3 separate regions of the Homo sapiens genome follow, and all the other regions are linked to region 3. Evidence: fine-mapped expression QTL. A gene starts in region 3. Each other region holds a variant in brackets. All regions are shown on one strand. Distances are between the middles of the regions. Region 1 overlaps EYA3 (EYA transcriptional coactivator and phosphatase 3). Region 2 has its middle 14 kb from the start of IFI6. Region 3 holds the start of XKR8 (XK related 8).

What was found. PIP is the estimated chance that this variant, and not a neighbour inherited with it, causes the effect. A credible set is the group of variants that fine-mapping cannot tell apart.
Region 1: its variant is the best candidate, but not a certain one, in a credible set for the expression of XKR8 in tibial nerve (GTEx, PIP 0.83).
Region 2: its variant is the best candidate, but not a certain one, in a credible set for the expression of XKR8 in whole blood (TOPMed, PIP 0.89).

Annotation. Positions count from the first base shown.
Region 1 is chr1:28,007,748-28,011,986 of GRCh38, forward strand. It overlaps EYA3 (EYA transcriptional coactivator and phosphatase 3), which reads right to left. Exons shown (of 18, transcript NM_001990.4): 10 at 3,200-3,339. Among named protein-coding and RNA genes, the nearest start is that of XKR8, 50 kb to the left of the region's middle. The variant A/G (reference allele first, on the strand shown) is at 2,608.
Region 2 is chr1:27,684,436-27,688,674 of GRCh38, forward strand. It overlaps the pseudogene CHMP1AP1. Among named protein-coding and RNA genes, the nearest start is that of IFI6, 14 kb to the left of the region's middle. The variant A/G (reference allele first, on the strand shown) is at 2,181.
Region 3 is chr1:27,958,163-27,962,401 of GRCh38, forward strand. XKR8 (XK related 8) reads left to right here and starts at 1,811. Exons shown (of 3, transcript NM_018053.4): 1 at 1,811-2,200. The coding sequence starts at 1,908. It overlaps SMPDL3B (sphingomyelin phosphodiesterase acid like 3B), which reads left to right. Exons shown (of 8, transcript NM_014474.4): 8 at 314-990. The coding sequence ends at 676. RefSeq lists a silencer at 1,682-2,071 and an enhancer at 1,752-2,315.

The sequences.
Region 1 (4,239 bases), 50 kb after region 3:
CTAAATAAACGGAAAGACATCCATGTTCATGGATTAGAAGACTTAATATTGTAAAGAAGACAATACTACCCAAACCAACCTACAAATTCAACGCAATCCCTATCAAAATCCAATAGTAGTTTTTTAAAAAAATAGAAAATTGCATTCTAAAATTCTTATGAATCTCAAGGAACCCCAAATAGCCAAAACTGTCTTGAAATAGAACAAAGTTGAAGGATTCACACTTCCTGATTTCAAAACTTACAGTAACCAAAACAGTGTGGTACTAGCATAAGGATAGACATAGAGACGAATGAAATAAACCGAGAGTCTAAAAATAAAGCCTTACAAATATGATCAATTTTTCTTTTTCTTTTTTTAGTTTAGTTTTTTACCTTCTTTTAGTATTTAACCTACAGCCAACATCATAAGTTAATTTTTAATAGGATGCCAAAACCATTCAATAAGGAACGTCTTTTCAACAAATAGTGCTGGGAAAACTGGATATCCATATGCAAAATAATAAAGTTAGACCATTATCTTACACCATATACAAAACTAACTCAAAATGGAGAACAGCCTAAATTTAAGAGCTAAACGATGAAAATCTCAGAAAAAATACATAAAAATCTTCATAACCGTGTATTAAGTATTACACCAAGAAAACAAAACAAAACAAAAAGAAACAACAAGTATTAGACCAAAAGCACAGCAATAATAGAAATCAGACTTCCTAAACATTAAAAATTTTTGTGCTTCAAAGCACAAAAATTGAGAGAGTGAAAAGACGACCTACAGAATGGGAGAAAATATTTGAAGATTATATATCTGATTAATATAAGGGATTAATAATCTAGAATATTCTAGAATATTAATATAGAATATACAAAGAACTCCTACAACTCAACAATGAAAAACCAAACAACCCAGTTTAAAAGTGGGCAAAGGTTCTCATGCTTGTAATCCCAGCACTTTGGGAGGCTGAGGTGGGTGGATCACCTGAGGTCAGCAGTTCAAGACCAGCCTGGCCAACATGGTGAAACCCCGTCTCTACTAAAAATACAAAAATTAACCAGGCGTGGTGGCATGTGCCTGTAATCCCAGCTACTCAGGAGGCTGAGGCACAAGAATTGCTTGAACCTGGGAGGCAGAGGTTGCAATGAGCCGAGATTGTGCCACTGCACTAGGGAAATGCAAATCAAAGCCACAATAAGATACCACTTCACATCCATTAGAATAGCTATTATCAAAAAAATGGGAAATAACAAGTGTTGGCGAGGATGTGAACAAACTGGAACCTTTATGTATCGCTGGTAAGAGTATAAAACCGTGCAGCCACAATGAAAAATAGTTTGGTGGTTTCTCAAAAAGTGGAGCACAGAATTACAATAGCATCCAGCAATTCCACTCCTACATATATACCAAAAAGAATTGATAAGATGAACTCAGATAGATAATTGTACACCAATGGTCAAAGCAGCATTACTCACAATAGCACAAAGGTGACAAACCCCAAGTGTCCATCAACAGATGAATGGATAAACAAAATGTGGTATATACATATAATAAAATATTCAGACATAAAAAGGAATGAAATTCTGGTATGTGCTACAACATGGATGAACCTTAAAAACATTATGGTAGGCAGGGCATGGTGGCTCACGTCTGTAATCCCAGCACTATGGGAGGCCGAGGCAGGCGGATCACGAGGTCAGGAGTTTAAGAACAGACTGACCAACATGTTGAAACCCTGTCTCTACTAAAAATACAAAAATTAGCCAGGCATGGTGGTGTGCACCTATAATCCCAGCTACTCTGGAGGCTGAGGCAGGAGAATCACTTGAACCCGGGAGGCAGAGGTCACGGTAAGCCGAGATCGTGCCACTGCACTCCAGCCTGAGACTCCATCTCAAAACAACAACAACAACAACAACAACAACAAAAAACCATTATGGTAAATGAAATAAGTCTGGCACAAAAGGATACATTTTCTGTGATTCCACTTATATGAGATATCTAGAATAAGAAGTCAAAGACAGAAAGTAGAATAGAGGTTACCAGAGGTTAGAAGAAGGGGAGAATGGGGAGTTACTGCTTAATGGGTACAGAGTTTTCATTTGGAATCATGAAAAAGTTCTAGAAATATACAGTGGTGATGGTTAGACAATATTGAGAATGTATAATGACACTAAATTGTACACTTAAAAATGGCTAAAATGGTAAATTTTATGTATATTTTAGACAATTAAAAAATGAGTTATCAGTTTTTCCTAAGAAATATATCAGAAATTTACTTTTTCTTTCTTTCTTCTTCACTCCAAACCTCTGAAAAAAGAGAAAAGGCTTCAAATACAGGCTCAGTTCACCTATGTCTTAAGAGCACTTATCAATGGATTCATAGTTAAATATGTATTTTCCCCTCAGTACATAATAGCACTATAGAAAAACGGAAAACAGAAAACAAAAAGATAATACAAAAACTCCACTAATTTTAGCACTCTGCATGACCTTTATGTCTTTAATGATGAAGTCAAATGTATGTCCATAATAAACTCATATAGTACTTACACTACAGAATAAATCAGCACCAGTCTCATTAATAAGTTACCAGATCTGTTTGCGCCTTAC[A/G]GAAACTTGGCTAAAAGCACTCTAGTCCTTTCCTTTTAAATTTCTTTTCTTTTTGAGACAGAGTCTCACTCTGTTGCCCTGGCTGGAGTGCAGTGGCCCGATCATAGCTCACTGCAGCCTCAACCTGCCAGGCTCAAGTGATCCTCCCATCTCAGCCTCCCAAGTAGGTGGGACTACAGGTGTGCAGCTAATTCTTGTATATATATATTTTTAGAGATGGGGGTCTCACTATGTTGCCTAGGCTGGTCTCAAGCGATCCTCCCGCTTCAGCCTCCCAAAGTGCTGGGATTACAGATGTAAGCCACCGCACCTGACCCTTTTAAAATTTTAAATAGAGAACAGTATGACTTTACTTGTAACTCCCTCTGCTTTCTGAATATGATGAATTGTTTCTGTTCTCTTCTGGAATATACAGAATAATTTGTTCTTTTTACATTTTTCTTTTAACGTGGCCAATTTAGTTTATTTTGCTCAGGAATTAAAGGGCACATAACATAGTGCACATTATCTCTGTGAGCTTCAAAAACATGTTTGATAAACTTAAGAAGTGAGAAAGAACAAAGTAGGTAACTAAATCAGTTTCTTCTCATACTTCTAATTCACTGTCTTGGGAAGAAGTGGCATCAGCTTTCCTCTTGCCCCGGTTCTTGCTAGTCATGTTTTTCCTGGACTGATCATCAGTATCTTTACTTGGTGTAGTCTGGGACAAAGATGGACTTGTAGAAGGGTCTCCTGGAAAGAAAAAGTGAAACATATGTTGTCAGGAGTCACAGGCTATAAGAATCAGGGCAGGAAGAGGGTTAGTGGACTCTCTGCCCTTGTGAGTCATAATGCAGGGATAAAGGTTGGAAAGCTAAACCTTATGTAAGCAATTATGAAGTGTACATCTAGGCATTGAGCATCAGCACTGGCTAACATCAGAAAAGTTATAACCAGACTTTATATGCTTACCCCATGATAGAAGAAAATATCAATGAAGTTGTTTTGCCAAGAAAAAGCTGAACCTGAATCTTCATGGTCAAACTTGTAGATTAGAGTTTCTCAACCTGGCACAACTGACATTTTGGATCAGATAATTATTTGTTGTGGGGGGATGTCTTGTGCATTATAGGATGTTTGGTTAAGCAGTATCCTTAGCATCTACCCACTAGATGCCAGAAGCACCGCCCCACCTAGTGTAACAACCAAAAATGTTTCCATACATTGCCAACAGTTGAAAACAACTGTTCATTCACCAATTTACTATAAAATACAGAAGGCAGCAGGACATGTTAAACCACCTTATGAGGATATAACTGTCAAAATTCAGACTGGGAAACAGTATGGGATCAACACTCCAGTTTCTTCAACAAACAAACTACAAGGGGGAGAAAAAGAGACGGGAGGATTTATAGGTTAAAATAGAGATGAAACACAAAATACCCATAATTACCAATCACAATTTATGGACCTTATATTTGGATCCTAATTTTCCCTCCTCAAATTTTCTATTTATTTATTATTTCTATTTACTAATGCGATAAAAACTGTATATGCTTTATGTTGTTTTGAAATATGTATACACTGTGGAATGGGTTGGATCCTACTTTAAACAAAAGGGAAACAAAACTCATAACATTTATGAGAAAGCTG
Region 2 (4,239 bases), 270 kb before region 3:
CTTTACCTTCCTGCTTTTAAAATTCCACCAAACTGGAGGAAATAGAGCAAACTGGTTTGGGGCCTTTAATGTTGAAGACCATCAGAGACTCTCTTTGGTCCACCCAACCTTCAATAGTGTTGTATTAAGACATTTATTTTGGCCACGCGCAGTGGCTCATGACTGTAATCCCAGCACTTTGGGAGGCCGAGGCTGGCAGATCACCTGAAGTCAGGAGTTCAAGACTACCCTGGCCAACATGCCAAAACCCCATCTCTACTAAAAATACAAAAATTAGCCAGGCGTGGTGGCAGGTCCCTGTAATCCCAGTTACTTGGGAAGCTGAGGCAGGAGAATTGCTTGAACCCAGGAGGCAGAGGTTACAGTGAGCTGAGATCATGCCACTGCACTCCAGCCTGGGTGACAGAGCGAGACTCTGTCTCAAAAAAAAAAAAAAAAAAAAAAAAAAGACATTTGTTTTCACTGCATTAATTTCCTTTTTTAAAACCTCATTAATTTTTATTTTACTCATCCTATTTCTTAATAACCATCTAAGGATTTCCATCCTGCTCAGACGAGTCTCATGACTCTCCCCTTTCTTTTTCCTCTTAGTTTCACCCTTATCAGTGTTCTCTTCTTTCTCTCCCTCCCTCTCTCTCCTTTCTTCTTTCCTTCTCCTTCCTTCCTTCCTTCCTTCCTTCCTTTGCTTCCTTGCTTGCTGGGGGACCTGTTTATTTACAGCAGCATTTTAGGAAAAGGGCAAACATGGCTCTCTCCTTCAACAAATCCCTGCTTTGGTGCCCAAGGAGACAGGGCTGAGGTAGCCCCTGCCTGGCCCTTGGCTCTGTGGAGCCCTGCACCCTTGGGAGGACAAGGTAGCTCCCCAAAGCTGTTAATTCCAAAGCTGTTATTTGCAAGGGATAGAGGGACCTTGTTTCAACACCCAGCATGTGGGTCAATTTCTGGGGAGGCTGGAGAGGACCATGGCCAGATGGTGCCTTGACCTCCGCATGTCCAGACCCACCAATGGGATCTCCTCCCAGGGGCTCTGAAATCCTGAAAAGAAAACCAAACGCACTGAGTGAGGGTCTTATGCTTCCCTTCATAAGAGCCATGACACCGCGGCAGCCCTGGTGCAGAGGAGGGGCTGGGACTCACCCTCCCCGCCTGCCACCTGTCCTTTCTACTTTGGCAAACAACAACAAAACCCTGGAAGCTTCAAGAAAATGAAGTAAACTTTAGGGAACAGAAAAAACAAAACAGCAGGCTGTGCCCAAAGCCCTCTCTCTGCCGTCCCCCTCTCCGAGTCCTCCTGATGAGCTGCAGCTGGTGGTGCCCGCGTGGCCACAGCACAGGTTTTCCTCACAGAGCCACTGGCCCAGCTGAAGGTGACTCTCCTAAGCTCCCTTCACCAGCCACTCTGGCTTCCACGCTGGGAAGGTAGGATGGGGTGCAGTCGGGGGAGGCACCCAGTTATTTAGAGAGACAGAAGAGATTGGCACACAGGCAGCATCACCGAGGAGGCCCCACGCACATGCTCAATTCTGGCCAGTGCATGGACAGACCCCCTGCTGAGGGGACACAACAGCACAGCCCATGTAGCCCAAGGCACCTCCAGAGGTGGCAGATGAGCAAGGATGAGGACCCCAGGGTGGAAACTCCTGGATTTGGAGCTGGGCAAGTTTCTGTCCCCATGGACTGGGCAGCTTTAAGAACCAGGGGAGCTGAGGGCAGGAGGCCCAGGGAGGCTCAGCCAGCTGTCAGGAGCAGCCCAGACCCCACCCCTAGAATGACAGAGGAGGAAGAGGGGGAGGGTCATCATCTGTAAATGCCACCAAGACAGTGTTGGGTGGCACCTGACGTTCCCCAGCACACACGAGCCACTGGTGCCTCTTCAGGCTGTGTCCGTTCACATGGTGGGACCTCCTGCCCATTGGTGGTAGGGGCAGGGTGCGTGGAGAGGCCTTCTCCAGGAGCTGCCTGGAAAACAGGGCAGCCCTGACCCCCACTGGCTGACAGTGAGCAGCATGTCTCCTATCACGGAGTCTGAAGGTCCCCGCAGTGTTGAGCAAAAGTTTACATGGCACCCACTGGCCAGACCCCATCGACTCCACAGAGAGCAAAAGAGAGCCTGCTGACCTCCCAGCTGTTGGCCCCAGAGTCACAGAAGTCACCCCTACTCAACACCAGGACACAGATCC[A/G]CCGCCCAACCTAAGAAAACAGGAACAACTCCAGGGCCACCTAGGCCAGGCAGGTGAGAGGAGCTGGGCGACAGTAGCTGCCAGCTGCAGCTCTGCAGGATCAACAAAAAGGCAAGATGCCGGGGGGAGGGGAGGAGGCCAGGAGCCTTGCGGCACATCACAGAGCAGAGGCGGTGCCCACGGCAGGGTGCGGCTAATTCCTCAGGGCGGCTAACGCCCTTGACAGCTGTTCCTCCTGGCTTCACACGGAGCTCTCGCCCGGCAGAGGCACCCTTGGGCAACTGGCTGAGCTGGTCTAGGACCTCCAGGCCATTCTCCTTGGCGCTCTGCACAATGGGTCTGTCCACCTGCTCCTGAGGCATGGTCAGTGTGGCGGCCGAGCTCATGGAATCCTCCATCACTAATGTGTGCATGGCCAGGTTTTGCACTTGCTACTCAAACCTGTCCATCGCTGCAGAGGCCTTCTGCAGGTCCGTGGTGTTCAGGCCTTGTCTGGGGCTTTGGTCACCTACACCATGTTCTTGGTTACCACCTTCATGGTCACAGCTGTCTGCACCTCGGGGGCCACTGTGTCCAGGCGGATGCCATGTAGAGCCAGTTCACGCTGCTGTTCTCCTTGCAGATGGTGTTCTTGGTGTACACACGGGTGCACTCTACATTTTTCTGCTGAAGGGACTTCTTCACTTTGGCCTGGTTGGCGTAGGAGTGCTTTTCTGCCTTCTTGTCTGGTTTCTCCAGCTGCTTCACCATAAATTTCAACTGGAACAGGGTATTGTCCCCTGGCCAGTCTGACAGAAGCACCCCTTGGAAAGGCAGAAGGGACATGAACTCCGGGAGGCATCAGGTGCCAGTGGCTCTTGCCTTATTTCTTAATAACCATTTAAAAATGTTTGCCTTCGTGGGAGAAATCCTTTGATTCTCCCCTCTCCCATTACCTATTCTCTTGTTAGTTGCCTTAATGTTTTCATTACCATCCGTAAGACCCAGGAGGGGAAGCTGAGGTAGCAAATTTGATAAGGCTTCTCTGACTATAGCTCAGTTTTGCAGTAGTAAGGTTACATGAGGTGCCCATGCAAAAGAGGCTGCCTGAACCACAGCATTTATCATGACCCGGGTAATAGGCATTGTCATGCAGGACTCCTGTTGACTCCAATAGGGATGGCACTGTGTCCTAGAGGCCGGAACCAGTGAATGAGACTTAGGGTTTACTGAGGGGAACTTACACACAGGGATGGTCCAGTGGTGGTGGGCTGGACAGGAGCATGCATTTATGAAACAGGGCATGCGTTTTATGAAACGCATGCAGTTGATACAGCATTTTCACTTAGCACCTTCCACCTAGCAACCTCTACCCAGCAACCTCCAGTTAATCCACAAAAAGGGACTCCATCCCCTGTATGGCCTGTGTTCCAAGGAATGAGCCAGGGGCTCAGATGTCCTTCATAGATAAGGAGTGAAACTCTGGGTTGGCCACTCCCGGATTCCTTAGCTCAGGACTCCGAACACACATTCTTCTTAGACCCTAGGATCATTCTCAGGGTACGCTTCAGTTAAGTTATGGCTGTCAGCTGCATCTGCCATATACAGGCATCCTTAGCGGGTGAATGCCTGGTCATTGTAAAGCCAGCTCCACATGGCTTGCATATGAAACCTATCAACTGCTTCATCTGGGGTGTTCCATTTGACATTTATAGGGAATGTAGGGGCCAAGGGAAAAACTTCTCCTTTGCCCTCTCAAGGATCACTGTACATTCAACCCACAAAATGCAGATTAATAGAGAAATGTCATACAAATTTATTAATGTGTACATGAGGGAAAAATCACAGAGTGCTTACCCAACATCCCAATGAGGCCCAAATACTTCTATAGCTTTATTTCAGAGGGGATGGGGGAGATAGGGAATATAGGTAATTCTGTTGAGGGACAATAAATGATTACTAGGGAGAATGAATGGGTGGGGGCGGAGGAATAGAGATTAATTTATAAACGGGCTGGGCATAGTGGCTCACACCTGTAATTTTGACACTTTGGGAAGTCAAAGCAGGAGGACTGCTTGAG
Region 3 (4,239 bases):
GGACCTGGGGTAAACCTGGGGTCCAATCCTGCTACCACTGAATACCTGTATGAATACCTGTATGACCCTGGCCAAGTGAATTAACCTCTTTAGGCCTCAGTTTCCTCATTTGTGAAACCTAGGTAATAAGCGCAGTTACCTCATTCGATTCAGAGGATGTCTGCCAAGCACAATGGGTGCACAGCTAAGTGCTCAATAACTACTAGTGGTCATGGTCACTGCTCTAAAGAACTTGGGGGCAAATGCAAGGTGCAGGATGGGGATGGAAGCAGACAACTGCTCACAGCCGGTCTACCCCAAACCCTTTTTCCAGGACATGGTGACCTACTTCATGAACCTGAGCCAGGCGAATGCTCAGGGGACGCCGCGCTGGGAGCTCGAGTACCAGCTGACCGAGGCCTATGGGGTGCCGGACGCCAGCGCCCACTCCATGCACACAGTGCTGGACCGCATCGCTGGCGACCAGAGCACACTGCAGCGCTACTACGTCTATAACTCAGTCAGCTACTCTGCTGGGGTCTGCGACGAGGCCTGCAGCATGCAGCACGTGTGTGCCATGCGCCAGGTGGACATTGACGCTTACACCACCTGTCTGTATGCCTCTGGCACCACGCCCGTGCCCCAGCTCCCGCTGCTGCTGATGGCCCTGCTGGGCCTGTGCACGCTCGTGCTGTGACCTGCCAGGCTCACCTTCTTCCTGGTAACGGGTAACGGGGGCAGCGCCCAGGATCACCCAGAGCTGGGCCTTCCACCATTTCCTCCGCGCCTGAGGAGTGAACTGAAATAGGACAACCGAATCAGGAAGCGAAGCCCCAGGAGCTGCAGCCATCCGTGATCGCGCCACTGCACTCCAGCCTGGGTGACAAAGCCAGACTCTCTCCAAAAACAAACCAGAAACAGAAAAGAAATGACGACCCAAGACCCCCCTACAAGCATACTTCTTTTGCGTATTATGTTTAACTCACAAAACAAAGCTCATCATGCGTTTGATTCTGTGTTGTGTTCCTTTTCTTTTCTTTTGAGACGGAGTCTCGCTCTGTCGCCCAGGCCGGAGTGCAGTGGCGCTATCTCGGCTCTCTGCAACCTCTGCCTCCCGGGTTCAAGCGATTCTCCTGCCTCAGCCTCCTAGCTGGGACTACAGGCGCGCGCCAACACGCCCGACTAATTTGTATTTTTAGTAGAGACGGGGTTTCGCCATGTTTGCCAGGCTGGTCTCGAACTCCTGACCTCAGGTGATCCGCCCGCCTGGGCCTCCCAAAGTGTTGGGATTACAGGCGTGAGTCACCGCGCCCGGCCTCTATTCCCTTCCGTATGGAAATGAGGTTAACTCATTTGCAGGAACCTAACGCCCGCCCTCCCCCGACTCGGATCGCTGGCGTGAACCCAGCGGCCCCGTGCTCTCCGGGTATCCCTGGATCGAGGCGCACGCGTTGTTGCAAAGTCTCGCACTTAGGGATTAGAATGTGCCTTTGCGTTTCGTTTTGTTTTGCAACAATACAGGTGTGAGGGATCGCAGCCCTGGTCCAGGCTCTAGTCTCCCCGCCCTCTCGCTTTCTTGGGCCTCCGGGCGCCTCAAAGGTAAAACTAGGCCATTTGAAGCCTGCGAAGCGAAGGGCAGTCGGTCTTCAGGCCTAGCGGGCTTGGCTGGGCTGGGTCGGTGGACCCCTGGGCTGGCGGCGGGAGCAGAGCATCGAGCGGCTTTTAGCTGGGGTTCGGGCGGAGGACCTGGGACAACCGCGGGCCTCGCTCCTCCCCGGACGGGGCGGGACGGGGAAGTCCCGCCCACCAGGCCCAGGCCCCGGGCCGCCCCGAGGGCTGCGCCCACCTCCTTCCTGCCTCGGCAACCCCGGGCCCTGAGGGCAGGCCCCAACCGCGGAGGAGCAGGAGAGGGCGGAGGCCGGCGGGCCATGCCCTGGTCGTCCCGCGGCGCCCTCCTTCGGGACCTGGTCCTGGGCGTGCTGGGCACCGCCGCCTTCCTGCTCGACCTGGGCACCGACCTGTGGGCCGCCGTCCAGTATGCGCTCGGCGGCCGCTACCTGTGGGCGGCGCTGGTGCTGGCGCTGCTGGGCCTGGCCTCCGTGGCGCTGCAGCTCTTCAGCTGGCTCTGGCTGCGCGCTGACCCTGCCGGCCTGCACGGGTCGCAGCCCCCGCGCCGCTGCCTGGCGCTGCTGCATCTCCTGCAGCTGGGTTACCTGTACAGGTGAGTGCTTCGCCCCGGGAGGGGAGGAGTGTCGGAGCCCAGCACCTCCGTCAGCTGGGTCACCTGTACAGGTGACACGCCATATGCCGGGAAGGGGACTGGGAGAGGGAACCAAGTCCTGTGGGCGCCTGGCCTACAGGTGAGCGTGCAGCCCTTTACGGAAAGGGAATCCCGGTAGACTGCCTTCATTCTAGCCCTAGCTTTCCTGGCACAGGCGAAGAAACTGAGGCCCAGGGAAGAAAGGGAGGCGCATGGGCTTTGAAGTCGGACCTCTCAGGGATCCACTTCTGGCTTTGCCCCCTCTCGCCTCACTTCTGCATTTCTCTGAGCCTCAGTTTCCTCCTGCGTAGAAAGGAGGTAGTCACCCTGAGACAGGTGTGACGGGCAGGCCTGTTGTGAAGAGTGAGCGAAAGAATGAGAAAGTGCCTCGCACAGTGCCTGGCCTGTAATGGCAGGGGCTGCGGACTCAGTTCAGCATCCCATGTTTCAGCATGGGCAGGGCCTTGGGAAGTCACTGACCTCTCAGTGGGGCTGTTTGGTTGCTGTTCCCATTGGGATGGGGATAGCGCCTGCCCGTTTGGTGAAGATGCAGTGAAATGACATCTGTCCACTGCCCTGGCTCAGAGTGAGCACTCAGCAACCTCAGCTGGCTTCTTGACCTGGGCCTCCCTGGGAGTTTCAGCAGCCCTGACCCCACCACAGCGCTTGCCCCTCACAAAGGCCGCCTCTCACCCTGTCTGCCTGGTTGTATTCTTCCCCCTGAAACTTGGCTTCCCACCCCAGACCCAGCAAGAGGGCAGAGATGGCCTCTGACTCATCCATGCCCATGGAGCCAGCCAGGGCTGGGCATAGGCTGGGTCCTGGAAAATGTGTGTGGATTCTGCTCCTTTTTGGACCTGGTGGAGCCTCGTAGAGATGGGAAAACAAACCCAAGGCTCAGAGGCATGCGACAAAGTCAGGGCAGAGGGTGGTGTGGGTTGGGATGGGGTGGCCAGGGCCAGGATCTGCTCTTGAATCCGTTTTTACAAACTCTTGAGATCTGGCCTTGACAAAGCCACACGGAGTCTCCAGGAGTGGAAGAGAGGAGCTTTGAATGTGGCAGTTTTGCCTGAGGGATTATAGAGACATCAGAAAACCCCGGGTGGGCATGAAGGGGTGCAGTTGTTAAGTCCTGGGCAGGCCTCCATGAGCCGTGAATCTGTAACTACCTTATGCATCTTTGTGGCCAATATTTCTGCTGAGCTTGAGTCAGACAGACTGTACTAGCTTTGGCTTTGGAAATGGGTCTCTGTTCCTGCCTGTGAATTGGCCGAGGCAGGGGTCCCTGCTAGGTCACTGGGGACCATAGGCAAAGGCTCCTGCTGAGGGAGAACCCCAGCCTGTCCTGCCTGCCTGCTCCTCAGTGTGTTCTTGTGTCCTTCCAGGGGAAGTGACAGTACATGTCTGGTGAATGAGCTTGTGATGAGTGAACGGGGTTCTCTCCCAATAGGCAACTGAGAGCAAAGTTCTGGGTGGAGGGTCCTTGGTGCATCCTCCACTTACTCTTCATGCCAGTGGGTACCCCAGACCTGTCTGTCCAAACTCTGGACTCTCTTAACTCCGCCCCAATCTCCATCCTTAACCACTCAGGGCCAGCCTCTTAAATGGGATCCCTCCTTCCAATCTAACCCTCCTCCAGCCCCTCCCCTGTGTGGCCGGGGCAAGGCAGAGTCTGATTCCATCTGGCCTGTGCCCAGAAGTGCCCAAGAGGCAAATGTCCTCTTGCCCACAGGACCCCAGGAGATCTTGGGCACACTAAAGTTTGAGAACTACTGCCTCAGGCAACTTTATAGCATGCCTTTCCAATTCAGGTTTGGATCCAAATCCTCATTCCAGTACTTATTAGCTGCTTATAATTTTTTGTTTGTTTTTTAAAAAGAGGTAGGGTCTGGTCAGGCTTGGTGGCTCATGCCTGTAATCCTAGCAGTCTGGGAGGCTGACGTGGGTGGATCACTTGAGGTCAGGAGTTTGAGACCAGCCTGCTGAACATGGCAAAAGCT